Homo sapiens: one gene and its partners. The protein of the gene in region 2 purifies or fractionates together with the protein of the main gene of each other region. This does not show direct contact. Each region holds a gene or a part of one and is shown on either strand. Other genes may lie near its edges. The genes, in order: PKN3, TUFT1, ATF1, RPRD1A, CLOCK, STRN and GOLGA5.

Region 1 (3,500 bases), on a different chromosome or scaffold from region 2:
AGAAGGCAGAACTCGGCTGGGTGCGGTGGCTCACACCTGTAATCCCAGCACTTTGGGAGGCCGAGGTGGGCAGATCATGAGGTCAGGAGTTCGAGACCAGCCTGGCCAACATGGTGAAACCCCGTCTCTACTAAAAATACAAAAAATAAGCTGGGTGTGGTGGCATGTGCCTGTAATCGCAGGTACTCGGGAGGCTGAGGCAGGAGAATCTCTTGAACCTTGGAGGCAGAGGTTGCAGTGAGCCGAGATTGCGCCATTGCACTCCAGCCTGGGCAACAGGGCAAGACTCCATCTCAAAAAAAAAAGAAGCCGGGCGCAGTGGCTCACGCCTGTAATCCCAGCACTTTGGGCGGCCAAGGTGGGTGGATCATGAGGTCAGGAGATCGAGACCATCCTCGCTAACACAGTGAAACCCCGTCTCTACTAAAAAAATACAAAAATTAGCCAGGTGTGGTGGTGCTCGCTTGTAGTCCCAGCTACTTGGGCTGCTGAGGCAAGAGAATCGCTTGAACCCAGTAGGTGGAGGCTGCAGTGAGCCGAGACTGCACCACTGCATTGCATCCTGGGCGGCACAGCAAGACTCCGTCTCAAAAAAAAAAACAAACCAAAAAAAAAACAGAAGGCAGAACTCAGTCTCCTCTCCCATCCCTGACCACAGGCTCTCCCTTGGGCCAGGTGCAGGCTGGGGCTACGAGCCTCTAGGACTAGGAAGAAAGGGCCAGTGTGCCCAGCTGTCCCCTGGAATGAGGTCTGGGGTGGTGGAACCAGGGCATCCGCAGGTGAGGAGATTTCCTGGGACATGCCATGTGCCCATCATCCTATTGGCCAGGGTGGGTAAACAAGGCTGGAGATATGGATCCCAATGGGCGGCCCCCACCTTCCTTGCAGAGTCCAAAGTCTGCGATCTTCAGGAATCCCTGGGCATCCAGCAGAAGGTTATCCAACTTCAGGTCCCTGAGGGCAAGGGTGCAGATCAAAGGGACTGAGTGGGGCTTAGACCCAGGGAACAGTAACGGCCCCTGGAGCAGCCCAGGCAGGCGGAGGCAGCATCTGTCCTTACCCACTCCACCCCCACCCCCACCCCTACCCCCGTGCATCCCTGGGACAAAAGTCACCTGTAAATGATCTTCTTCTCGTGTAAGAACTGCAGCCCCAGGACAACACAAGCCACGTAGAAGCTGCAGGGGTGGTTATGGGAGAACTCAGGCCCAAGACACACACCAGGGAGGCAGGGCAGGGAGGCACCAGGATGGCCATAGCGGGGGGATCCCGGATGTCCCGGCCAGAGTCAGAGATGAGTGAGACTGGGACAAGCATCATGCTGAGGGTGGGGGTGCTCCAATAGTCCCAAGGTCGCCCCAAGGTTGCGTGCATTTCCAGCTCACCCTTCATGGGCCCTTAAATGGTGCCAGGGACCAAGTGTTGGTCCCTGCAGTGGATATTCATCATGCCTATTTTTTTTTTTTTTGAGACGGAGTCTCACTCTGTCACCCAGGCTGCAGTGCAGCGGTGCGATCTCGGCTCACTGCAACCTCCACCTCCTGGGTTCAAGCAATTCTCCTGCCTCAGCCTCCCAAGTAGCTGAGACTACAGGCACGCGCCACCACGCCCAGCTAATTTTTTTTTTTTTTTTTTTTTTTTAGTTTTTATAGAGATAGGGTTTCACCATGTTGGCCAGGATGGTCTTGATCTCTTGACCTCATGATCCACACGCCTCAGCCTCCCAAAGTGTGGGGATTACAGGCATGAACCAACGTGCCCGGCCTTTTTTTTTTTTTTTTTAGATGGAGTCTCACTCTGTCGCCAGACCGAAGTGGCGGGATCTCGGCTCACTCCAACCTCCGCCTCCTGGGTTCAAGCGATTCTCCTGCCTTAGCCTCTCAAGTAGCTAGGATTACAGGCGTGTGCCACCATGCCTAGCTAATTTTTGTATTTTTAGTAGAGACAAGATTTTACCATGTTGGCCAGGTCACGAACTCCTGACCTCAGGTGATCCACCCGCCTCAGCCTCCAAAGTGCTGGGATTACAGGTGCCCGGCCAATCATGCCTATTTTTCAAATAAAGATCTGAGACTCACCAGGTGTGGTGGCTCACGCCTGTAATCTCAGCACTTTGGAAGGCCGAGGTGGGCGGATCACTTGAGGTCAGGAGTTAGAGACCAACCTGACCAACATGGAGAAACCTCGTCTCTACTAAAAATACAAAATTAGACAGGAGTGGTGGTGCATGCCTGTAATCCCAGCTACTCAGGAGGCTGAGGCAGGAGAATGGCTTGAACCAGGGAGGCGGAGGTTGTGGTGAGCCGAGATCATGCCATTGCACTCCAGCCTGGGCAATAAGAGCCAGACTCTGTCTCACAAAAAAAAAAAAAAAAAAAAAAAAAAGAAACCTAATGCACAGCTTCATAAGCTGATACCCAGGATCACAAATGCTGTCAGTTGGTGCCAGGATGTAAACCAAGGCCTCTGACTCCTGCTCCCCTGCTGTTGGGCACTTGGAGAAAGCAGTATGTAGAGAGTGGGTGTAGGGAACCAGGCAAAGTTTGCTGGAAGAGGCAGGCAGGAGGGATGGAACCCACCGGGCCTGGGGCTCGGGGAAGACATCCTCGTGGATCTGCATCATGAGGTCACCACCAGGCACAAACTCAGTCACAAAGCAGGCATGGCTGGAGGTCTGGAAGCAGGCAAGGAGGGAGAGCAGGAAAGGGTGCCCTGTGCAGCCCACAGCCTCCAGGATCCGCTTCTCGCAGTACAGGCTACAGGAGAGAGCAAGAGTATTAGAGGGAAGGAAAACTTTCCCTGGGCTGTGCCCTGTGCCCTGCACAACACCCCTGGCTCACTGGGCCCTCAGCCAAAGTGCCAGGCAAGTAGACTGATGGTTTCTTTTCATTTTTTTTTTTTTTTTGAGACACAGTCTTGCTCTGTCGCCTGGGCTGGAGTGCTGTGGTGTGATCTCAGCTCATTGCAACCTCTGCCTCCCGGGTTCAAGAGATTTTTGTGCCTCAGCCTCCCGAGTAGCTGGGATTATAGGAGTGCGCCACCACGCCCAGCTAATTTTTGTATTTTTAGTAGACGCAGGGTTTCGCTGTGTTGCCCAGGCTGGTCTCGAACTCTTGGCCTCAAGTTATCCACCTGCTTCGGCCTTCCAGAATGCTGGGATTACAAGTGTGAGCCAGTGCGCCCAGCCTTTTTTTTTTTTTTTTTTGAGACAGGGTCTCACTTTCTTGCCCAGGCTGGAGTGATGTGGTGCGATCTCGGCTCACTGCAGCCTCCGCCACTGAGGTTCAAGTGATCCTCCCACCACAGCTTCACGAGTAGCTGGGTGTGCACCACCACGCCCAGCTAATTTTTGTATTTTTTGTAGAGGCGGGTTTCACCATGTTGTCCAGGCTGGCCTCGAACTCCTGGGCTCAAGCAATCCTCCCACCTTGGCCTCCTGAAGTGCTGGGATTACAGGCATGAGCCACTGTGCCCAGCCTCCCCCTCCTTTTTTTTTTTTT
Region 2 (3,500 bases):
CACATTTTACTTATTTGTCTTTTGTGTCTTGTGTCTCCCCAACAAGAATGTCAGCTGTAGCTCCACTTGACCAAGGTCCCTCCCTCCATCCTGCAGCCAGTCGTTAGGACAGTGCCTGACTCGCAGTACAGGCCAGGGATGGGGCACAGAGTTGGGTGAGTTGGCATGCTCTCTTTCTCTACCCTAAAGCTCAAGTTTCTTCCCCTCCCCTCCCAGGCCAGGAACTGCCTACAGAAGCTCCGGGAGGATATAAGTAGCAAGCTTGACAGGAACCTAGGAGATTCTCTCCATCGACAGGAGATACAGGTAATAGGAAATGGTCCATGGTTGGGTCCCCACCGAGGAGGTGGGGTTGTGCCAGGCAGTCTCATTTACCAATTACCCAGTGTGTGCTAAATCTAGCATCCCTGCCAGGAATGGAGAAAATAGAGGTGATGCTGGCTTCTCTGGAGCACTCACAATCTGGTTAGGACTCTCCAGCCGATGAGCACTTACATTTACACATGTCAGCTTAAACATAAGTACACCTGCTCCTGAAACACTGTACAGAAATTGAACTTATATAAATTAAATATCATCAGTTGTTAGCAAACCTCTTATCTATAAGGATTCTGTGATCAAGCTTCTTATAATAATAGAATTTTGTAAAGCAGACAATCACCTGTAAATCCACACTTCTCATAAGCTGATCTTGCTTAGTTTGGGTGATACCTGTAGCGTAAATTGAAGTCCGTGCCCTAGCCTGTTATTAATCTTGTATATAGTTATGTCTAACCTGGGATGGGAAGTTCCTCAAGGTTAGGAGTTCACCCCACCCCACCCCACCTCGTGTCTGTATCCTCACCCTCCCATTCCCCCCAGGTCTGGGATGTAGAAGGCATCAGTAAATGTTTGTTAGACTGAACAGATTGGGTAAGTCTTTCCTGGGAGGGATAATCCTGGGATCCTGCTTTTCAGTTTTTCCAAAACTCGAGGACAGAAATGTCCTCAGGAGAGCAGAGCTGTCTCTTTGTGACTTCGCCCTCATCCTTTAGATTCTGAGTTGTATCCTTGATTTGCATTTTGGTTCAGGCAGAGTCTTGCTCCAGCAGCAGCCCCTGCCTTCATTCCCTTGAGGGGAACAGTGGCCCAGCAGCTGGTGCAAGGAAAGTTCTTTGTCTTGGGCATGCACTTGTGTGGTGGAAATTACCTAATTTTTGCTTTGGCTGAAGGTAGGTCTTTCAGTGCTTGAGCTCACATCTGGCTGGTGGGAGCTACTTTGTCAGGTATCAGAAGAACCTAATGTGTGCAGAGACTGGCCCAAAGTCCAGCCCCCTTGTTTGCACAAACCGGCTGTCATATGATGAATAATCAGGCTTTGGGTCAGAAATAATTGAAAAAGATCTTCCCTTTGTAATTTTTGCTTTGTCAAACTTTATCAGGATCCCTGGGGGCAAGGGAAGCTCTTTGTTTGTGGCAGGCAGCTGCATGTATTCCCTGGCTAAGAAGAATGGGCTACACATACTTTTCCATCTGCTGAAAGATTTTAGCCTGAGGTTTTTTTCATCCTCCCTACAAGACTTTCAAGGCCCTTTCAAGGCCGCATAACATCTCTCCACCCCCTCTTGTTTCTATTTTCTCATGGAACGCTAGAAATCTTTTCTTCTTTCGCTTCGTTCCTTCTTCCTCTTCTCCTTTCTTCATTCCTTCCTTTTTCTCCCTCCCTTTCTTTTTCTCTCTCCCTCCCCCTCCCTTTCACCTTCCTCTCCCTCTCCCTGTCCTTCTCTTTCTAAGATTTGAGTGTTAGGAGAATAATGTTTCAAAGTTGGTTGCTTTCATCTGTTTTAACTACCAATTTTATTTTTCTTTGAACAGGTGGTGCTAGAAAAGCCAAATGGCTTTAGTCAGAGTCCCACAGCCCTGTACAGCAGCCCACCTGAGGTAGGTAACAGAGGACACCATGGTGGCTCCGCTTAGCCAGGGGCAGGATTGCCTCCTCCCCATCCTTTTGTTTATTGCTTTCTCTCTCTCTCTCTCTCTCATTAAATACAAGAGTAGTAGTTGACATAAAAATTCAAACACAGAGAAATACAAAGAGTAGAAATTCTCCTTCCCCAATCTCTCTCCTTGCGAGTATCCACTGTTAACAGATTGAAGTGGGTGGATCTTTCTAGGGCAGTGCTTCTCAGCCTCAGCTGTTCATTGGAATGGCCTTGCAAGCGTTAAAGGATATGATGCCTGGGTCCCATCCCTAGAGCTTGTCATTTCATTGTTCCAATAGGTGGCCTGGGCATCAGGACTTTTAAGAGCTCTTCAGGTGATACTAATGTTTAGCTAAAGTTGAGTGCCAGTATTCTAGAATATTTTTATATACATAGACAACCATATTTAAATATCATGTATATGTTATATACACACCATATATACATGATAAATATATGTATATAATATACATGTGCTTTTCTCAACTATAAGATCATGGTAAATACATTATTCTTTGCTTGCTTTTTTTTTCTTAACTAAAGAGTATATTATAACCTTCTTTCCATGTCAGTACATATAGATCTACCTCATTCTTTTGAATAACTACATAGTATTTCCTTCCATGGCTGTACTTGATTGATTGACTGATTGATTGATTGATTGACTGACTGACAGAGTCTCACCCTGTCACCCAGGCTGGAGTGCAGTGGCAATCATGGCTCACTGCAGCCTCGACCCCCGGGGTTCAAGCAATCCTCCCACCTCAGCCTACCCAATAGCTGGGACTATAGGGCACGCGCCATTATGCCTGGCTAATTTTTGTAGAGATGGGGTTGCCCAGGCTGCTCTTGAATTCTTGGGCTCAAGTGATCTGCTTGCCTCGCCTCCCAGAGTGCTGGGATTATAGGCATGAGCCACTGTGCCTAGCCTACTTTTTAAATTTTTATAATTATTATTTTTTGGGACAGGGTCTCCCTATGTCATCTGAGCTGGAGTGCAGTGGTGCAGTCATGGCTCATTATATTCTCAACCTCTTGGGCTCAGGTAGTCCTCCTGCCTCAGCCTGGGAGGGACTGTGGCAGCCACTATAGTGGCTGGGACTATAGACACGTGCCACCACACCTGGCTAATTTTTGTATTTTTTGTAAAGACAGGGTCTCATCATGTTTCCCAGGCTCATCTCAAACTCCTGGGCTTAAGTGATCTGCCCACCTCGGCCTCCCAAAGTTTTGGGATTATAGTCATGAGCTACTATGCTTGGCCTCCATGACTGTACTTTATTTGTTATTTTTTGAGATGGAGTCTCGCTCTGTCACCCAGGGTACAGTGCAGTGGTATGATCTTGGCTCGCTGCAACCTCCACCTCCTGGGTTCAAGCAATTCTCGTGCCTCAGCGTACTGAGTAGCTGGGACTACTGGCGTGAGCCACCACGCCTGGCTAATTTTTGTATTTTTAGTAGAGATGGGGTTTCACCATGTTGGCCAAGCTGGTCTCGAACTCCTGACCTCAGGTGATCCTCCCACCTTGGCCTCCCAAA
Region 3 (3,500 bases), on a different chromosome or scaffold from region 2:
GAGATAGTGCCAATGCACTCCAGCCTGGGCAACAAGAGTGAAACTCCATCTCCAAAAAAAGAAAAAAGAAAAGAAAACTTGCAAAGAAAGAAACATTATATGTTAGGCAATAAACTAAGAGCTTTTTAAGCTCAACATTACTGATCATTAGAGAAATGTAAATCAAAACCGCAATGAGATACCATCTCACGTCAGTCAAATGGCGATTACCGGCCTGGCATGGTGACTCACACCTGTAATCCTAGCGCTTTGGGAGATCGAGGCGGGCAGATCACTTGAGGTCAGGAGCTTGAGACCAGCCTGGCCAATATGGCAAAACCCCATTTCTACTAAAAATACAAAAATTAGCCAGGCGTGGTGGTGGGCACCTGTAGTCCCAGCTACTTGGAAGGCTGAGGCAGGAGAATCGCCTGAACCCAGGAGGCGGAAACGATGCAGTGAACAGAAATTGCACCACTGCACTCCAACGTGGGCAAGAGAGCAAGACTCAGTCTCAAGAAAAAAAAAAATAGCTGGCATCGTGGGTGACTGTGGTCCCAGCTACTTGGGAGGCTGCCCAGGAGGCGGAGGTTGTAGTGAGCCAAGATTGTGCCACTGCACTCTAACCTGGGCAATAGAATGAGACTTTGTCTCGAAAAAAAAAAAAAAAAAAAAAAGAATGGCAATTAAAAAGTCAACAGTTGGCGAGGTTTGGAGAATAAGGAATGCTTTTACGTTGTTGGTGGGAGTGTAAATTAGTTCAACCATTGTGGAAGACAGTGCAGCAATTTCTCAAAGACCTACAGGTAGAAATACCATTTGACCCAGCAATACCATTATTGGTATATACCCAAAGGAATATAAATCATTCTATTATAAAGATACATGCCCACATATGTTCACTGCAGCACTATTCACAATAGCAAAGACATGCAATCAACCCATATGCCCATCAATGAGAGACTGGATAAAGAACATGTACATATATATCATGGAATACTATGCAGCCATAAAAAGGAAAGAGATAATGTCCTCTGCAGGGTCATGGATGGAGCTGGAAGCTGTTATCCTCAGCAAACTAACAAAGGAACAGAACATCAAACACTGCATGTTCTCACTTATAAGTAGGAGCTGAATGGTGAGAACACGGGGACACATGGTGGGAGAACAACACACACTGGGGCCTGTGGAGGAGGGTGCGGTGGGGGAAGGGAGAGCATCAGGAAGAACAGCTAATGGATGCTGCGCTTAATACCTAGGTGATGGGTTGTTCTGTGCAGCAAACCATCATGGCACATGTTTACCTATGCAGTAAACCTGCACATCCTGTGCATGTACCCTGGAACTTAAAAGTTGAAGGGAAAAAAAAAGGCTAGGCGCACTCCAGCCTGGGTAACAAAGTGAGACACCCGTCTCTTAAAATAAAAGAGAGAGAGAGAGAGAGAAAAATATATTTAGACAGTTACCTCACCCCAGCTTTAGAAATGGGACAACTTGGCCAGGCACAGTGGGTCACACCTGTAATCCCAGAACTTTGGGAGGCCGAGGTGGGTGGATCACTTGAGGTCAGGAGTTCGAGACCAACCTGACCAACATGGTGAAACTCGGTCTCTACTAAAACTACAAAATTAGCCAGGGGTGGTGGCACATGCCTATAATCCCAGCTACTTGGGAGGCTGAGGAAGGAGAATCGCTTAAATCCAGGAGGCGTAGGTTGCGGTGAGCCGAGACCATGCCATTGCACTCCAGCCTGGGCAACAACAGTGAAACTCCATCTCAAAAAAGAAAAAAAAAAAAAAAAAAGGAATGGAGCAATTCAGGCACAACAAAACTTGCAAAAATATAGCCAAGTGCGATGGCTCATTCCTGTAATCCCAGCACTTTGGGAGACACTTTGTACCCTTAAGCGATAGGATCGCTTGAGCCCAGGAGTTTGAGACCAATCTGAGCAACACAGTGAGACGCTATTGTTACAGGACAGGGTCCCAATCCAGACCCCAACAGAGGGTTCTTGGATCTCGCACAAGAAATAATGGGTCAAGTCCACAGTGTGAAGTAAAAGCAAGTTTATTAAGAAAGTAAAGGAATAAAAGAACGGCTACTCCATAGACAGAGCAGCCCCGAGGGCTGCTGGTTGTCCATTTTTATGGTTATTTGTCGATGATATGCTAAACAAGGGGTGGATTTTTCATGCCTCCCCTTTTTAAACCATACAGGGTAACTTCCTGACTTTGCCATGGCATTTGTGAACTGTCATGGCGCTGGTGGGAGCACAGCAGTGACGACGACCAGAGGTCACTCTCGTGGCCATTTTGGTTTTGGTGGGTTTTGGCCGGCTCCTTTACTGCAACTGTTTTATCATCAAGGTCTTTATGACCTGTATTTTGTGCTGACCTCCTATCTCATCCCGTGACTTAGAATGCCTTAATCATCTGGGAATGCAGGCCAGTAGGTTTTAGCCTCATTTTACCCAGCCTGTTTAAGATGGAGTTGCTCTGGTTCATACGCCTCTGACATTTCCCCCCGTCTAAGAGAACCCTTAATCCTAAGGGTTGCAGAGGGACGAAGATCCATCTTCTATAACTTCTTCAGGCTAAATAGGGCAATGATATTCCTGCCTGCCTATGAGGGTCTCTTGCATTCAGGGTAAAAAGGAGCTCAGTCAGAAAGCATCAGTATGGTAAGGTTCATTCATAACTCAAGTTTCAACAAAAGGTGGTATCTGGAAAATTAGTAAGAAAACGTTCAGTAAGCTTGTCCTGTATTCCTACACAAAAAGTATAACAGCAATATATTCCACAAGAGTAAAGCAAAATAGGCTGGGTACAGTGGCTCACACCTGTAATCCAGCACTTTGGGAGGCCGAGGCAGGTGGATTACCTGAGGTCAGGAGTTCGAGGCCAGCCTGGCCAACATGGTGAAACCCTATCTCTACTAAAAATATAAAAGTCAGCTGGGCGTTGTGATGTGTGCCTGTAATTCTAGCTACTTGGGAGGCTGAGGCAGGAGAATCACTTGAACCCAGGAGGCGGAGGCTGCAGTGAGCCAAGATGGTGTCACTGCAGTCCAGCCTGGGCGACAGAACAAGACTCTGTCTCAAAAAGAAAGAAAGAAAAAAAAAAGAGTAAAGCAAAATAAGTAAAGTTATTCCAAATAAACTAAATTAGAAGACTTTTCATGAACCAGGCAACCACTGGAACTAAGCTGATATCGGGTTGTTAGCTGATTGTAATGTGCCCAGAATCAGAATACTGATCCAGATTTTTAAATTACCCATCCCTCTTATTTCTTCTGAGCAACAATTAGAGATTACTGGTTGGTTTACAAGAATACGCAGGGTTAGCCTAAATTGCAGAAACAAACTTAAAAACAATTAATGAGACCAGAATTTAATAACAAGTGTACCATAGTTTTTGAAACATAGTATTTCTCTCTCCAGTTTCCCATTTTTACTAAAGACAAATTATGGTAAGACTGACTTGCTTTATTATACTTGGCCTGATTGTTTGTATAAAGTGCAG
Region 4 (3,500 bases), on a different chromosome or scaffold from region 2:
TTTATCTGTCCCGCCTACATGTTTGAAACATAGAAGGAGGAAGCTTAAAGACTCAATGCCCACTTAAAAAAAAAAAAAAAAAAAAGTCTTTCTGGAATTAATCTGATGGTTAAGGAATACCATACCATACCAACATGTAGGAGGACACAGAGTGTTAAGATAATAATTCTAACTTATTTTTCCACAGAATTACATAGTTCTATATAGTTACAAAGAAATGTATGAACACATATATATCACTCTAACACTACTTTTTTTTTTTTTGAGACGGAGTCTCGCTCTGTCACCCAGGATGGAGTGCAGTGGTGCTATCTCGGTTCACTGCAAGCTCCGCCTCCCAGGTTCACGCCATTCTCCTGCCTCAGCCTCCCGAGTAGCTGGGACTACAGGCGCCCGCCACCACGCCCAGCTAATTTTTTGTATTTTTTAGTAGAGACGGGGTTTCACCATATTAGCCAGGATGGTCTCGATCTCCTGACCTCATGATCCGACCACCTTGGCCTCCCAAAGTGCTGGGATTACAGGCGTGAGCCACTGCGCCCGGCCACTCTAACACTACTTTTTACATTTAAAAACAAAAATACTTAAAGGGGCAGTGATTATGTCCAAGAATGAAAATTTTAGTGTATTTAAATCATACATGAGCCGGGCACAGTGGCTCATGCCTATAATCCCAGCACTTTGGGAGGCCAAGGTGGGAGGATCACTTGAGGCCAGGAGTTCAAGACCAGCCTGGCCAACATGGTGAAACCCCATCTCTATTAAACACAAAAATTAGCTGGGCTTGGTGGCCCGTGCCTGTAGTCTCAGCTATTTGGAAGGCTAAGGCAGGAGAATCGCTTGAACCCAGGAGGCAGAGGTTGCAGTGAGCCAAGATAGTGCCACTGAACTCCAGCCCTGGGGACAGAGTGAAACTCCGTCTCAAAAAAAAAAAATCACATAACAAAATAGGCATGTTTTGTTTTATTTTAAAAAGTTTAAATAGCTAACATCTCACATCTAACCATATTTGGCAATTAAAAATCCTCTTTCTATACAAAACATGATTTCTATGCAAAATATACAATATACAACATACTACATTTAACATAAGCAATTTGTTAATGAGGAAGAGATATTCATGTGGCTTCTTTCTTGTACCTAAAAGTATAATAGAAATCAATTTACAGAAGTGAAACGAAATTAATAAAGCTTGGTGGCAACATGAAGTAAAAGTTTGTAACTCTTTTAACAGGGTAAAATTTCTACCTGTGGTGGTTCACTTGGAGATCCCAGAGAGGAACAGTTTTCATTTTCATCCACCTTTATCTGTTCATAAGTTCGCTTCCTAGGCTTCTTATCACCATCTGAAATGAAAGAACATTTAAGTATTAATGAAAGAATACATTTTAATGAAGAGATCAAGGTAAGAGATCAGGATTCTACACTTACACAGAGCTTGTTTAAGTTGTTCTAATACATCATTTTCATAAACAGACCTTTCTTCCCAAATAGATAACACTCTTCCAAGGTGCTTCTTACAACTTTCATCAGTTTCACTAAAAAAAAAAAAAAAGAAAAAAAGAAAAATGTTAACAGTAACAATGCATAGTGTTATTGAAAAGGTTAACGGTAACTTTAAATATAATCAGACATTCATTCCCTGGAAAAAACTGTCCAAATGTCTACTTAGCATCACTATGTGGCCAGCAGCTCAAAAGTGAAGTGATCTAGACACACTGCTTGCTTCTAGTAAACATTTTATAAACATATTATTACACAACCAAAAAAAGTTTAAACTGTAAAAGTTTTAGTACTGGCTGCTAGGGATTTCCTATCCTAATGGGGCCTGGACATGGGGCTAAGGAAGATTTCTCATAGGTTATTTTTTTAAATTTATTCAACAAATACTTATTGATCCAGTTACTATCTTTGACATGGAGATGCAAATGCAGCTTATGGCAGTTGTTATTTATAAGTATCACAAAAGAGAACAAAGTGCTTAAGACAGACCTGGCCCTGTTTAAGAGATATCCGGAAGAGTATTTAAGGAAATGATATTTAATTTGAGATCTTAAGACTAGACATATGGGGAAATGAAAAACAGACTACTCCCAACTGTTTCCTACCTCCTTCATTGCTATCACTGTAGACAGAAACACTACTATCTCTTGCTTAGAATTTTGTAAAGTCTTCTCACGCTCTCCCAGCCTCTACTCTTTTACTCTATTCTGTACAAAGCATCCTAATAATGTAAATCAGATTATACAGCTCTTGATCCTCCAAGAGCTACCAATCACATCAAGAATAAAACCAAAATCCTTACTCTGGGCCATAAGGCCCACATGCTCTGCTTTCTGGCAGTCCCTCAGTACACACTCCCTAATACCTAGTACCATACAAATCTCCTTGCTAAGGTCCTCAAACATGTCCAGCATATAAGCTATCTCATTTTTTCGGCCACATATTCTCTCTACCTAGAATCCTTTCTGCCTAGTCAAATGGCTCATTTCACCCCTTCCTTTAGTCTTTGTTCAAATGCCACCTTCCCCAAATAGTTGTTCTTTATCTCATCACATAACTGAGCGCCCTCATACTATCTAGTTCCTTCCCTGCTTTGTATTTCTTGCTAGCATTTGTCATCTGACATTATGCATTCACTTGTCTATCTACTTATTAACTTTGTCATCCAATGAAATGTAGGCTCCAGTAGAACAAAACTGTCTTGGTCACTACTACTCAGGGTTTTGCATATAATAAATATTTATGCAGCCAATAAATATTTTACTGAATTCTAGGGAGGGGCAACATATATAGAAGACTTAAGGCGGAAAGAACTAAAAAAGGTTAATTTAGCTTAAACTGTAGACTATAGACTGTGTGGAATAAATGCGAGACAGAGGTCTGGGGAGATAGGCAGTGCCACGAAGGAACACCTTAAGTCTTGCTCAGGACTTTAGACTTCATCTCTAAAACAAATGGGAACCACTCAAAGGCAAGGAAGTATTATGACCAGCTCTGCAACTCTGTCGAGTTTTCTAAAGAAATTAAACAATACTAAAGGGCATTAAAATTATACTGAAAATACATTATGGTAACTAAAAGGGAAAGAAATCCAAAGAACCGAGTCAATGTGTACTATGTGAGATATGGGGACTGAAGGAGAAAGAAGAGTTTAAAGGTAACATAATTTCTTGCATAGGCACCTGGATAGATCGAGTTGCCATTCACAGAGTATAAAACCTACAGGAGGGACAAGTACGGTGGGAAGCAAGGACATAATGAGTTCTGTATCAGACACAGTGAGTCTGAAATGTTTGAGACGCATACAAGTAAAAATGTCAAAAGGCAATTGGGCACACAGGTTTGGAACAAAAAAAAATCTGGACTGGAGCATAAAACTGTAAGTCATTACGGTGTGGAGAATAACCAAATACATGCGATGTACAAAATTACCCAGAGGGCAAGTAAAGAATGGAAACAGGCCAGACATGGTGGCTCACGTTTGTAATCCCAGCACT
Region 5 (3,500 bases), on a different chromosome or scaffold from region 2:
ATTACAGGTGTGAGCCACTGCACCTGGCCATGACTTATTTTTATATGTAGCAATATTTAATATTCTTAAGGACACAAAGTATTTATAAATTTTAATTATTTATTTGTAGGAAATGTGCACTGTTGAAGAACCCAATGAAGAGTTTACATCTAGACATAGTTTAGAATGGAAGTTTCTGTTTCTAGATCACAGGTAATTCCATTTTTAAATTCCATGAAAAGGTAATAGTCATGTTATATAATTCTTGAAATTAATGGATCAAGGGCAAACTTTTTTTTAAATTAGGACTTTGAAACCTGTTCCCATTTTTTGAAAAATAAAGCCCCCCCCCCAAAGTTTATTTCTAGTTGAAATATTTCTTATTATGGAAAAACTTATAATAATGATTGTTTTCTGTGTAATTTAGGGCACCACCCATAATAGGGTATTTGCCATTTGAAGTTCTGGGAACATCAGGCTATGATTACTATCATGTGGATGACCTAGAAAATTTGGCAAAATGTCATGAGCACTGTAAGTAGATTTTAACATTTCTGGTGATAATAACTGTTTTATAAGCAGAAGTCCTGTCCTGAAATGATAGGTAGTAAGACACAGATTTATAATCATTTTCATATTTTTGAAATATGCTAAAAGATTTTGCTTTATGTATATAACCAATGTAGTAGGAATCATAGATCAAGTTTAAACTTGTTCCTATTTTTATAATAAGTAGAATTTTATAATATTGCATCTAATACACCTTGTTCTGAAGCACGTGAGCTCTATATCTGGAGTAAGAGAAGTAGATTCCTTTGAAAATTGTAATACTTCAAACTTTTGGAGTATTGTTTCCTAAATTTTGATTTTGAGGCATGTGAATCTTTTCAGGAGCTAGGTACATGTCTGGAAAATCTGTCTTAGAAAGCTCATAGTAAGTGCTTGGTGTTATCTGCTTATTATTGTTGTTAGAGCAGGAGCATTATCATCCTTTGTGCCAGGCACTGTTCTAAACACTTTACATCTATTATCTTCATTATTCTCCATCACAGTTCTAAAAGGTAGATGCTATTATTATCTTCATGAGTAAGCTGAGAACACAGTAAGGCTAAGTAATTCACCCATAATTTCATAGCTCATTGGTGGCAGAGACAGGATTGGAGCCTAGGCCTACTCTTTTTATCACATGTATTTATTTTAGAAGTTTGTTTTAATGATGAGGTTTGCCTTAATGATATGTTTTATTTGCTTCTCTGATCCTCCTCCCAGATGCTTACCATCTTGAGTGTTCACTAAAGCTTAACTAGATATTTTAGACCTTTTCATGACGTTTTATGCTGCTGTTATAAACCTCACTGTATGAAAATGAAGCAGGTTGTATAATAGCATTAACTCTATGGAAAATTTTCAGAGTAAAGTCATTTCAGCACAAAAGATGTGGGCATTAAGCACCATGATGTTGTCTAAAGAGCTGATACCTCTATTAACTAGCTGGGTAACTTTGGACAGCAAGTTTGTTTGTAGACCTTGATTTCCTCCTTAGAGAGTGAGAGGCGGTGGCGGCGGGGTTGGGGGGTGGGGGGACAGATTGAGAGATTCTTGACTAGCATTTTCTAAGGTTTGTTCCACCGAATGTTGGTCCATAAAAAAAGACTTTATAGTCAAGGAAGATGGGGAAACACTTCATAATCCCTCAGAGAATCTGCACATGCATTAGCATACTCTAGGTTTTGAGAAAACTGAAGACACCTATTTAACAAAAAGTTTCCCAAATTAATTTAACTACAAACCCTTTTTTTTTTTTTTTTTTTTTTTTTGGGATGGAGTCCTGCTTTGTCACCCAGGCTGGAGTGCAGTGGCGTGTCTCAGCTCACTGCAGCCTCCACCTCCCGGGTTCAAGTGATTCTCTTGCCTCAGCCTCGTGAGTAGCTGGGATTACAGGCACGTACCACCATGCCTGGCTAATTTTTGTATTTTCAGTAGAGATGGGGTTTCACTATGTGAGCCAGGGTGGTCTCAAACTCCTGACCTCAAGTGATCCTCCCACCTCTGCTTCCTAAAGTACTGAGATTACAGGCGTGAGCCACCACACCTGGCCCAAAACCCATTTTTTTGTTTAATATCTGTTAAAACGCTTCAGAACTTAAAATCCACAGCACATGTTTTGGCAGTTACTGCACTCAGTTACTTCAGACTCAGTTACTTTGATTTTGGTTAGTTAAGGTTTAAAATTAAATGCTTCAAAGATTCTGTGCCTGCCAGAGTAGTTAGGAGAAAAAACTCAGGGGTGATTATTTATTGTTATTACCCTCTGTATATCTAGGCAGGAGGAAGTCAGCAGTGTGAATTCTTAAGTATTAATTGTGTATGGAAAGATTGTAAGATCAGCAGTGACTAGCTGTGAATTGGGCACTGTAGATCTGATAATTGCTTGGGACCTTAAACTAGCTCTAAAGAATAACATTTTCATATTGACATATATGTTATCAAAAGGCCAGAAAAATAATAGTATGTGTAAACTTAAATGTAAATGATAGCTTTTGGTTAAAAAACAATCTTTATATAATATGAATTAAAGAAAAAATATTTCTCTATTTTCCTTTTAGTAATGCAATATGGGAAAGGCAAATCATGTTATTATAGGTTCCTGACTAAGGGGCAACAGTGGATTTGGCTTCAGACTCATTATTATATCACTTACCATCAGTGGAATTCAAGGCCAGAGTTTATTGTTTGTACTCACACTGTAGTAAGGTAATAATTCTTTTAGAGAATTTCTGAATTACTGTAACATCCTATGATGATTTTGGCATTGTAACTTTTATGCGTAAGTTGTTAAAGAGCTACAAAGTGCTCTTTTCTCAATTGCTGATAGATCCTTTCAATATATTATTAAATTTACTTATAGGCATTATATATAAATATAGGAATGATATAGATATATAAGTCTTGATATAAATTTTGTGCTTTACAGCAGAAGTTGTTACTGTCATTTATGTAGTAATGTCAGTCATGTAAAAGGAAAACTGTAGGTAGATAAGCATACACTTCCTTTATTTATTTTTCTTAATTTAAGTATTGTGTGGTTATGGATCGTTTACAGCAGTGTATGAAACTTTAAGATACCTAGAAAAATGCAAGTTAAATTAAGACATTATAGGTATATTTTAGGTTTGTGTAGCACATAGCAAATAGTCTAGATGAACAGATGAGACACGTAACAACACTGAATAGTTACAGCTGTGCAGTATTTTAAACGAATGACCAGACACTAAAATTTGATTATTTTTTCCATTTGTAGTTATGCAGAAGTTAGGGCTGAAAGACGACGAGAACTTGGCATTGAAGAGTCTCTTCCTGAGACAGCTGCTGACAAAGTATGTTTCTTATAATTAAAAAAAATTATTTTTAATTTCTCCCCAATAAAAGATGAAACTCAATAATTAATAGGAAAACTATTTTTCAAAAATACTTTATTTCCTCACTTATAACGGGGATGTGATTATACTTTACTACTTATT
Region 6 (3,500 bases), on a different chromosome or scaffold from region 2:
TGTCTTTAGTTCATTTATTCTGTGACTGTTTTCAAAATTTCAATGTTAGGAAAGAGAATTGCCTGATAAATCTGGAAATATTTATAAATTACAATTTCCTGCTATATGTGGGTGCCATCTATGGCTTAGTCTAGAGCCACTAACGCTGTTCATTCTACAATGTTCTGTGAGATTTTGCTACTTTAAGTAAGTTCTATCATCACTTACATGGAGATAATTCTCAAATTTAAATCTCAGCTCTTTTTGCATACAAAGTTCTGTATCACATCATTATCATCTAAAGATATATATGACAAAGAGGGCTTCTTAATCCTTAAATCCCTTTATCACTCTTCCTCATCATAATAGAAATGGTCATTTGACAGAACTAGGTTTGGAATCCTAAAAGTCAGCATCCTAACTGTATTTTTTGTGTTAGTAAGTTCCAAAGAAACTTCAATTATACACACAATGAGACAGGCAAGCACATATCATTAAGCCTATATTACAGTGAACACATCAAGGTTCAGAAAAAGTTGTGACTCCTCCACAATCAGGTGACAAAATCAGTACCTATTCTAACTTCTGACTCTCTCCCAACCTGATGGTTCATGCAGATCACACAACTGTCAAAATTGGTTCCTAAATGATCACACATTCTTCCTGAAAGGCTTTTATTAAAAAGAAATCAGTAATTTAAAACCTCAGTGATTTCTGTTAAGCTTTTTTTAAGAGAAAAGAAAAACTGACATAAAGAAAACACTAATTGAAGGTATGTCAAAGTTTTAAAAATTAAATTATGGTCCAGGGAGAGGAAGGGGTGTCCTTGTAAAATATATTACTGGAACAACTCTCAAAATTTGAATATAAATAGTAATTCAGATAATAGTATTGTGTCAATGTTAAGTTTCCGGATTTTGATCATTGTAATACACTACATCAGAGAATGCCCTTGATCTTAGAATTACACGCTAAAGGATCTAGGGGAATAGGAGCATGACGTCTCTCATATGGTTCAGAATTAAAAATTATACACATATATAGAGTGAAAAAGCAAATGTGACAAAATGTTAAAAACTGCTAAATATGTGTGAAGGGTAGCCAGAAGTTCTCGTACTATTTTTGTACCTTTTCTGCAAGTTTAAAATTATTTCAAAATAGAGTTTAAAAAATTTTTTGAACCCTAGAATAGGTATTACAAGTTTATATTCACATAATAGAAAATACAGCTAAAAATAGTCTAATCTTACAGGATTTTCATGTGGCTCCTAGAAATATAACATCTTAAAAACTGAAGACAGTCTTTTCCCAATGCTAGTGGCAGGTAATTACCCAGCCTGTTATTTAAATATAAAATGTGGCTGGGCACGGTAGCTCACACCTGTAATCGCAGCACTTTAGGAGGCCGAGGCAGGCGGATCACTTGAGGTCAGGAGTTCGAGACCAGCCTGGCCAACATGGTGAAACTCTGTCTCTACGCAAAATACAAAAATGAACCAGATATGGTGGCACACGCCTGTGGTCCCAGCTACTTGGGAGGCTGAGGCAGGAGAATCGCTTGAGCCCAGGAGGTGGAGGTTGCAGTAAGCTGAGATCGCACCACTGCACTCCAGCCTGGGCAACAGAGCGAGACTCTGTCTCAAAAAAAAATAAATATAAAACAAAAACTCACTTGACCATGTGGAGTAAGTTCTTAGTCAGTTACACCTGGTTTAGATCCTAAACAAAGAGATGTTTATTTATAAAATTCAGACTACGCATTATTTCCTCCACAGATAATACTCCATTGAGCAACACCCGTGGTAAAGTCCAGCAAGAGAATAACAGTAACAACAAAAAAAGAAATACTTTAAGTGAAATATCCCATATATTCTGAGAGAGACGTTTCAGAGAATAGCCTCAATTGCTTTGAGAGCTAGAAAATAAATATGATTGAAATCAAATCATGGAAACAGGCAAAAGAAAGTTCTTATTTGGTAACACTTTTAAGGAAGCTTCTCCACTTGATGATAAATCAGAGAAGTCGGCAGAATGCAAAGAACACTACTCATACCTAGCTTGTGACGTATCTGCTTCAACTACCTTTGACTTTACCACAGTCAAATCGCCATTGACATCAATGAGAAGAAGGGTAATTTATTCCTATTCTAACAAACATCCTTCATCACTTTAAACTCTATATAAAACTCACTTTCTCCTTGAAGCTTGTTTGGTCCTTTCATTTTTTTAAAAAAATATGCTAAATTCCAAAACAGAACAACACAATCAATTATAAATAACAAGGGGTAGTTCACAGTAAAACATAATAAGAGACTAATTTAAGTTTTCTTTATACAACTTTAAAAGTAAAAAACATAATTTAGAAAATGTCAGGACATATTACAACTCAAAATAATGATCATTTATTCCAGTAATGTTGCCTTTGTTAAAAACATTCTTGGAAGTTTTCTCAAAATGTTTCCAGTGTCAAGTAAAAAGTCCTATTAATTTAGAGTCACATCTCTTGGGGGAAAATGTGGATTCACTCGCCTAGTTCTCTTTATCCATCTTATCTACCAGACTTGACATCTTATTAACCTGCAGTCATTAAAAAGCACTATTTCCACTCAGGATGTTCACAAATTGGCCATATAATCTCTGAAGGTAATTACAAAAATGTTCTCATCCTTTCTAATTTCATATTAGTTTTTTATTTTGCTACTGTAGCTTTGAGTCATATATTTAAACATGATTTTAAATTTATTGAGAGTCTAAAACCTGTAATTTCTTGCTGAAAAAAATTCTCCTTTTCCAATTCTATCACCTGAGTTTAATTTATTTTCCTGTCTCTCTCGTTTACATCCAAGTAGCTCAAAGTTCTATTCATGCTTACTTCCCCAAACAAGTCTCAGCATATCAGAAGAAAACAATGAACAACAGGTTAGGAAGGGAAAATGATGAAAACCACAAAGGAATAAAGAAACTTTTTGAGAGAGAGAGAGACAGAGAGTGAGAACACCACAAGAACATATGTAAACATATGCATGTACATGTTCACACATGCATGTGCACACACACAACATATCATCACTTTTAAAGCTAGTTCTCAGATTAAAACAAGAGTATATGTATGTCGTATTCTTCATCAACTGCAACCTAAACTGTGATTGTCTAGATTATGGCTAACGACAGAAAGCAATGGTTAAGAAAGCCAAAAACCAAAAAAGAGTCTGTAATATCTTCTTCATAACCTGAAAAAGCACTTATTTCCTGACTTCCTGCATCCAATAAGAAGCTTCAGGTTTGGAATTCTGAGTGCCACAACATGATCTGTATTGAGCTGTACCAAATCATACTATTAATATAAAATTAAGTTGATTTAAAATATGAAATTACGAGAAATGAAAAATAGAATTTCCTATTCAGAATAAATATGGCTTTCTTCAAATAGAATTGAAAATTAATCATTTAGTATAAAATAAAACTTGACCCATAACAGCTCAAATGCTATTTCAAACAGTATAGTTATAAATGTACATAAA
Region 7 (3,500 bases), on a different chromosome or scaffold from region 2:
TTACAATAACATTCACATCTTCCTCAGTCACTACCTCCATAATGAGATTATTTCCTTCTTAATTACCTATTTCTGAGGAACTTGAGGTTTTCTACTCCAGGGCCACCTCACTGCACAATTCCCAAGGGCACTGAACTGAATTCCATGTACCTTTTATATGCCCTAGAGCAGCAACACTGCAACTCTATTAGTGCCTACTACTTTGTTTAATGGAACAGCTTCCCTTGAAAGTTCAGAATAAATGAATGAACTAGACTACTACTAGTTTGTTCCTCTCAGTTCTTCAATTTCATGGTTCTTAAAGGATGACCAAAGAAGCGAATACTCTTATGTTTTGGGTTGGTGGGAGGATGACTGGTCCCATTTCCAAATCTGGGCAGTTTTTCTATGAAAATATCATTTTACAAGTCGCATCTAATTTCTCACAGTTTAAATGTAAATATTTCTAACAGTTTAAAGTTTTTAAGTTTATTATTTTATTTTATTTTTATTTATTTATTTTTGAGATAGAGTCTTGCTCTGCTGCCCAGACTAGAGTGCAGTAGTGCAATCTCGGTTCACTGCAACCTCCACCTCCCTGGTTCAAGCAACTCCCCTGCCTCAGCCTCCTGAGTGGCTGGGATTACAGGTGCCTGCAACCACATCTGACTAATTTTTTTGTATTTTTAGTAGACACAGGGTTTCACCATGTTGGCCAGACTGGTCTTGAACTCCTGACCTCAGGCAATCCGCCCGCCTCGGCCTCCCAAAGTGCTGGGATTACAGGCACGAGCCACTGCGTCCAGCCTTAAGTTTATTTTTAAAAGTTAAATTCCTAATCCTGAACAATTTAAGCCTCTACCTTCTTGAGTCTCTTTGGATCTTTGGAGTAACGAGGCCATTTCTTGATTTAAAGACTGAACTTCATTCCTCAGCAGCTGATTCTCCAGTCGAAGGTTAGACAGTTCATGTGATTTGCCATCATCATTAGGTGTTGGGGTGTGGTCAGGGCAGGCAGCATTTGATGACACATTTTCCTTTGAAGATTCCTCTTGACCTTCATGGCTAGAATCTGAGTTACTGGCAGCTTCTGTAAAAAAAAGAATACGTTTTTGTTACATTGGCGTGTTCATCACATATGCATTAACAACTTGCTTTGGTAGGATGCTCAAGTTGACTGCTACAGCTAAAACACCATAAAAAGTAAATTCTCAGCTAGGCGCGGTGGCTCATGCCTGTAATCCCAGCATTTTGGGAGGCCGAGGCAGGGAGATCACTTGAGGTCAGGAGTTTGAGACCAGCCTGACCAACACGGTGAAACCCCATCTCTACCAAAAATACAAAAATTAGCCAGGTGTGGTGGCACACACCTGTAGTGCCAGCTACTCAGGAGGCTGAGGCAGGAGAATCACTTGAGCCTGGGAGGCCAAAGGTGTTGCAGTGAGCCAAGATTGCACCACTGCACTCCAGCCTGGGCAACAGAGCGAGACTCCATCTCAAAAAAAATACATAAATAAACAAATTTTCAATAGTCTTCCCTCTGATTAAATTTCATTCTCATAAATGGGGCATATGGACCTCTAAGGATACTCAAGTCTGGATACACTGAATGAATGACAACAGACAGTACAACACCATTCTGGGGAGAACATCAGAGATCATGTGAGTGGTTGGGTTCAGGTAAAATGGGTTTGGATTTCCTTTTGTCTCCAAAATGCTTTTGGGAAAAAAAACCAGGAGAAGTCTCAAATACTGAAAAATTGGGAAGGCACAATAGAGTAGCTGCAGGTTTCAAGGCAAGAAGAGTAATAACAGGTCACTACAAGGTTTTTTGTTTTTTTTTTTTAATCAAACTGGAATCTAACATGTCTTACCCAAAGAGATAGAGACACATGAATTCAGATTAATCTTGTTTTTGTTACTAAATATAATGCAAGTATACTTTTAAATTACTCTAAAAATTATGTGATGAAAATGAACTATATATCTAAATAATAAAACTGACTAAAACAATCAGTATATGGGTAAAAGACTTGATACTTTATAAGGTTATATAAACAAATATCAATAATCAAATGAAAAAGTTCTGAACATGTTTAGTCATCAAGGAAATGCAAATTAAAATCACAATGAGAACCAACAGACACCCCCTAGAATGGCTAAAATTAAAAACACCAAATGTTGGTGACACTGCAGAGCAACTAGACCTCTCACTGCTGGTGGGACTATAAAATGGTACAATCACTGGGGGAAAAGGTTTTACAATTTCTTATGAAATTAAACATGCAGCTACCGTTTCACCCAGCAATTCCACTCCTAGGTATTTATACAAGAGAAATGAAAACATTTGCCCACAAAAAAGCAAGTACAAAAATGTTTATAGCAGTTTTATTCACAATAATCCAAAACTGGAAACAAACCCAATGTCCATAAAAGAGAATAGATAAACTGTGGTACAGCCGTATAATAGAGTACTACATAATAAAACAGAATAAAAAAAGAACAGTAACATGGATGAATCTCACTAACAGTTCAGTAAAAGAAGCCAGATTAGAAAGTATATATACTATATGATTCAATTTATATGAAGTTTTAGAACAAGCAAAACTAAGGAGAGAAAAATCAGAGCACTGGGTGCTTTCAGGGACGGGGTGAGGAGATTAAGTGGAAAGGAACATGAGGAACTTTCTGGGGCAAAGGAAATCTATAACACGGTAAAGGTGTGGGTTACACAGGTATTGCCATTCGTCATATAGCTAAGATTTGTGTGCATCTTAATATATGTACATTTTACCTAAAAGAAAAAATAACCACAAAAAGCTAATAATCAAGTGGGGTAGGGAATGGGCACCTAAGACGTGACTTAAAAATGGGAGTGTTGGCAGGGCGTGGTGGCTCACGCCTGTAATCCCAGCACTTTGGGAGGCTGAGGCAGGCGGATCACAAGGTCAGGAGTTTGAGACCAGCCTGGCCAACATAGTGAAACCCTGTTTCTACTAAAAATTAGCTGGGCATGGTGGCGGGTGCCTGTAATCTCAGCTACTTCGGAGGCTGAGGCAGGAGAATCGCTTGAACCTGGGAGGCAGAGGTTGCAATGAGCTGAGACTGCACCACTGCACTCCAGCCTGGGCAAAAGGTGAGACCCTGTCTCAAAAAAAAAAAAAAAAAAAGAAAGAAATTATTACATTTTTAAGGTGATAATGGTGTGAACATTTGCTTTTAGAGTATTTTTAGAGTAAGAAAATGAAATGTTTATAGAAAAAATGATATAAGATCTGTGATTTGCTTCAAATTAATTGTGCGGAGGGTGCAGGTGAAGAAAGTGATGGGAAATGGGAGGGTATAAATGAAACATGAATGGCCATGAGTGATTACTGTAGTTGGATAATAGGAGGTCATTACGTTCTATTTTGGTATGTTTGAAATTTCTAAAATAAAGATTTTAAAAAGAAATGAAGTAGGCCAGGCGTGGTGGCTCACGCCTGTAATCCCAGCACTTTGGGAGGCCGAGGAGAAAGGAC

Evidence for each region.
Region 1: the proteins of TUFT1 (region 2) and PKN3 purify together in Homo sapiens (affinity purification with mass spectrometry, with the first as the bait; one large-scale study listed by BioGRID). This does not show direct contact.
Region 3: the proteins of TUFT1 (region 2) and ATF1 purify together in Homo sapiens (affinity purification with mass spectrometry; 3 studies listed by BioGRID and IntAct, with this or other methods). This does not show direct contact.
Region 4: the proteins of TUFT1 (region 2) and RPRD1A purify together in Homo sapiens (affinity purification with mass spectrometry, with the first as the bait; one large-scale study listed by BioGRID). This does not show direct contact.
Region 5: the proteins of TUFT1 (region 2) and CLOCK purify together in Homo sapiens (affinity purification with mass spectrometry, with the first as the bait; one large-scale study listed by BioGRID). This does not show direct contact.
Region 6: the proteins of TUFT1 (region 2) and STRN purify together in Homo sapiens (affinity purification with mass spectrometry, with the first as the bait; one large-scale study listed by BioGRID). This does not show direct contact.
Region 7: the proteins of TUFT1 (region 2) and GOLGA5 purify together in Homo sapiens (affinity purification with mass spectrometry, with the first as the bait; one large-scale study listed by BioGRID). This does not show direct contact.

The regions. Positions count from the first base shown.
Region 1 is NC_000009.12:128,716,003-128,719,502, reverse strand, and holds part of PKN3 (serine/threonine-protein kinase N3), read right to left. Parts: intron 2,757-3,500; coding exon 2,580-2,756; intron 1,179-2,579; coding exon 1,116-1,178; intron 955-1,115; coding exon 878-954; intron 1-877.
Region 2 is NC_000001.11:151,564,309-151,567,808, forward strand, and holds part of TUFT1 (tuftelin), read left to right. Parts: intron 1-216; coding exon 217-306; intron 307-1,854; coding exon 1,855-1,920; intron 1,921-3,500. UniProt on the Homo sapiens protein: Involved in the structural organization of the epidermis. Involved in the mineralization and structural organization of enamel.
Region 3 is NC_000012.12:50,770,601-50,774,100, reverse strand, and holds part of ATF1 (cyclic AMP-dependent transcription factor ATF-1), read right to left. Parts: intron 653-3,500; exon of another isoform or gene 1-652.
Region 4 is NC_000018.10:36,029,560-36,033,059, forward strand, and holds part of RPRD1A (regulation of nuclear pre-mRNA domain-containing protein 1A), read right to left. Parts: intron 1,539-3,500; coding exon 1,432-1,538; intron 1,347-1,431; coding exon 1,249-1,346; intron 1-1,248. UniProt on the Homo sapiens protein: Interacts with phosphorylated C-terminal heptapeptide repeat domain (CTD) of the largest RNA polymerase II subunit POLR2A, and participates in dephosphorylation of the CTD by RPAP2.
Region 5 is NC_000004.12:55,452,910-55,456,409, reverse strand, and holds part of CLOCK (circadian locomoter output cycles protein kaput), read left to right. Parts: intron 1-109; coding exon 110-192; intron 193-406; coding exon 407-513; intron 514-2,585; coding exon 2,586-2,733; intron 2,734-3,012; exon of another isoform or gene 3,013-3,280; coding exon 3,281-3,356; exon of another isoform or gene 3,357-3,500. UniProt on the Homo sapiens protein: Transcriptional activator which forms a core component of the circadian clock.
Region 6 is NC_000002.12:36,851,537-36,855,036, forward strand, and holds part of STRN (striatin), read right to left. Parts: intron 1-3,500. UniProt on the Homo sapiens protein: Calmodulin-binding scaffolding protein which is the center of the striatin-interacting phosphatase and kinase (STRIPAK) complexes.
Region 7 is NC_000014.9:92,804,305-92,807,804, reverse strand, and holds part of GOLGA5 (golgin subfamily A member 5), read right to left. Parts: intron 1,070-3,500; coding exon 842-1,069; intron 1-841. UniProt on the Homo sapiens protein: Involved in maintaining Golgi structure. Stimulates the formation of Golgi stacks and ribbons. Involved in intra-Golgi retrograde transport.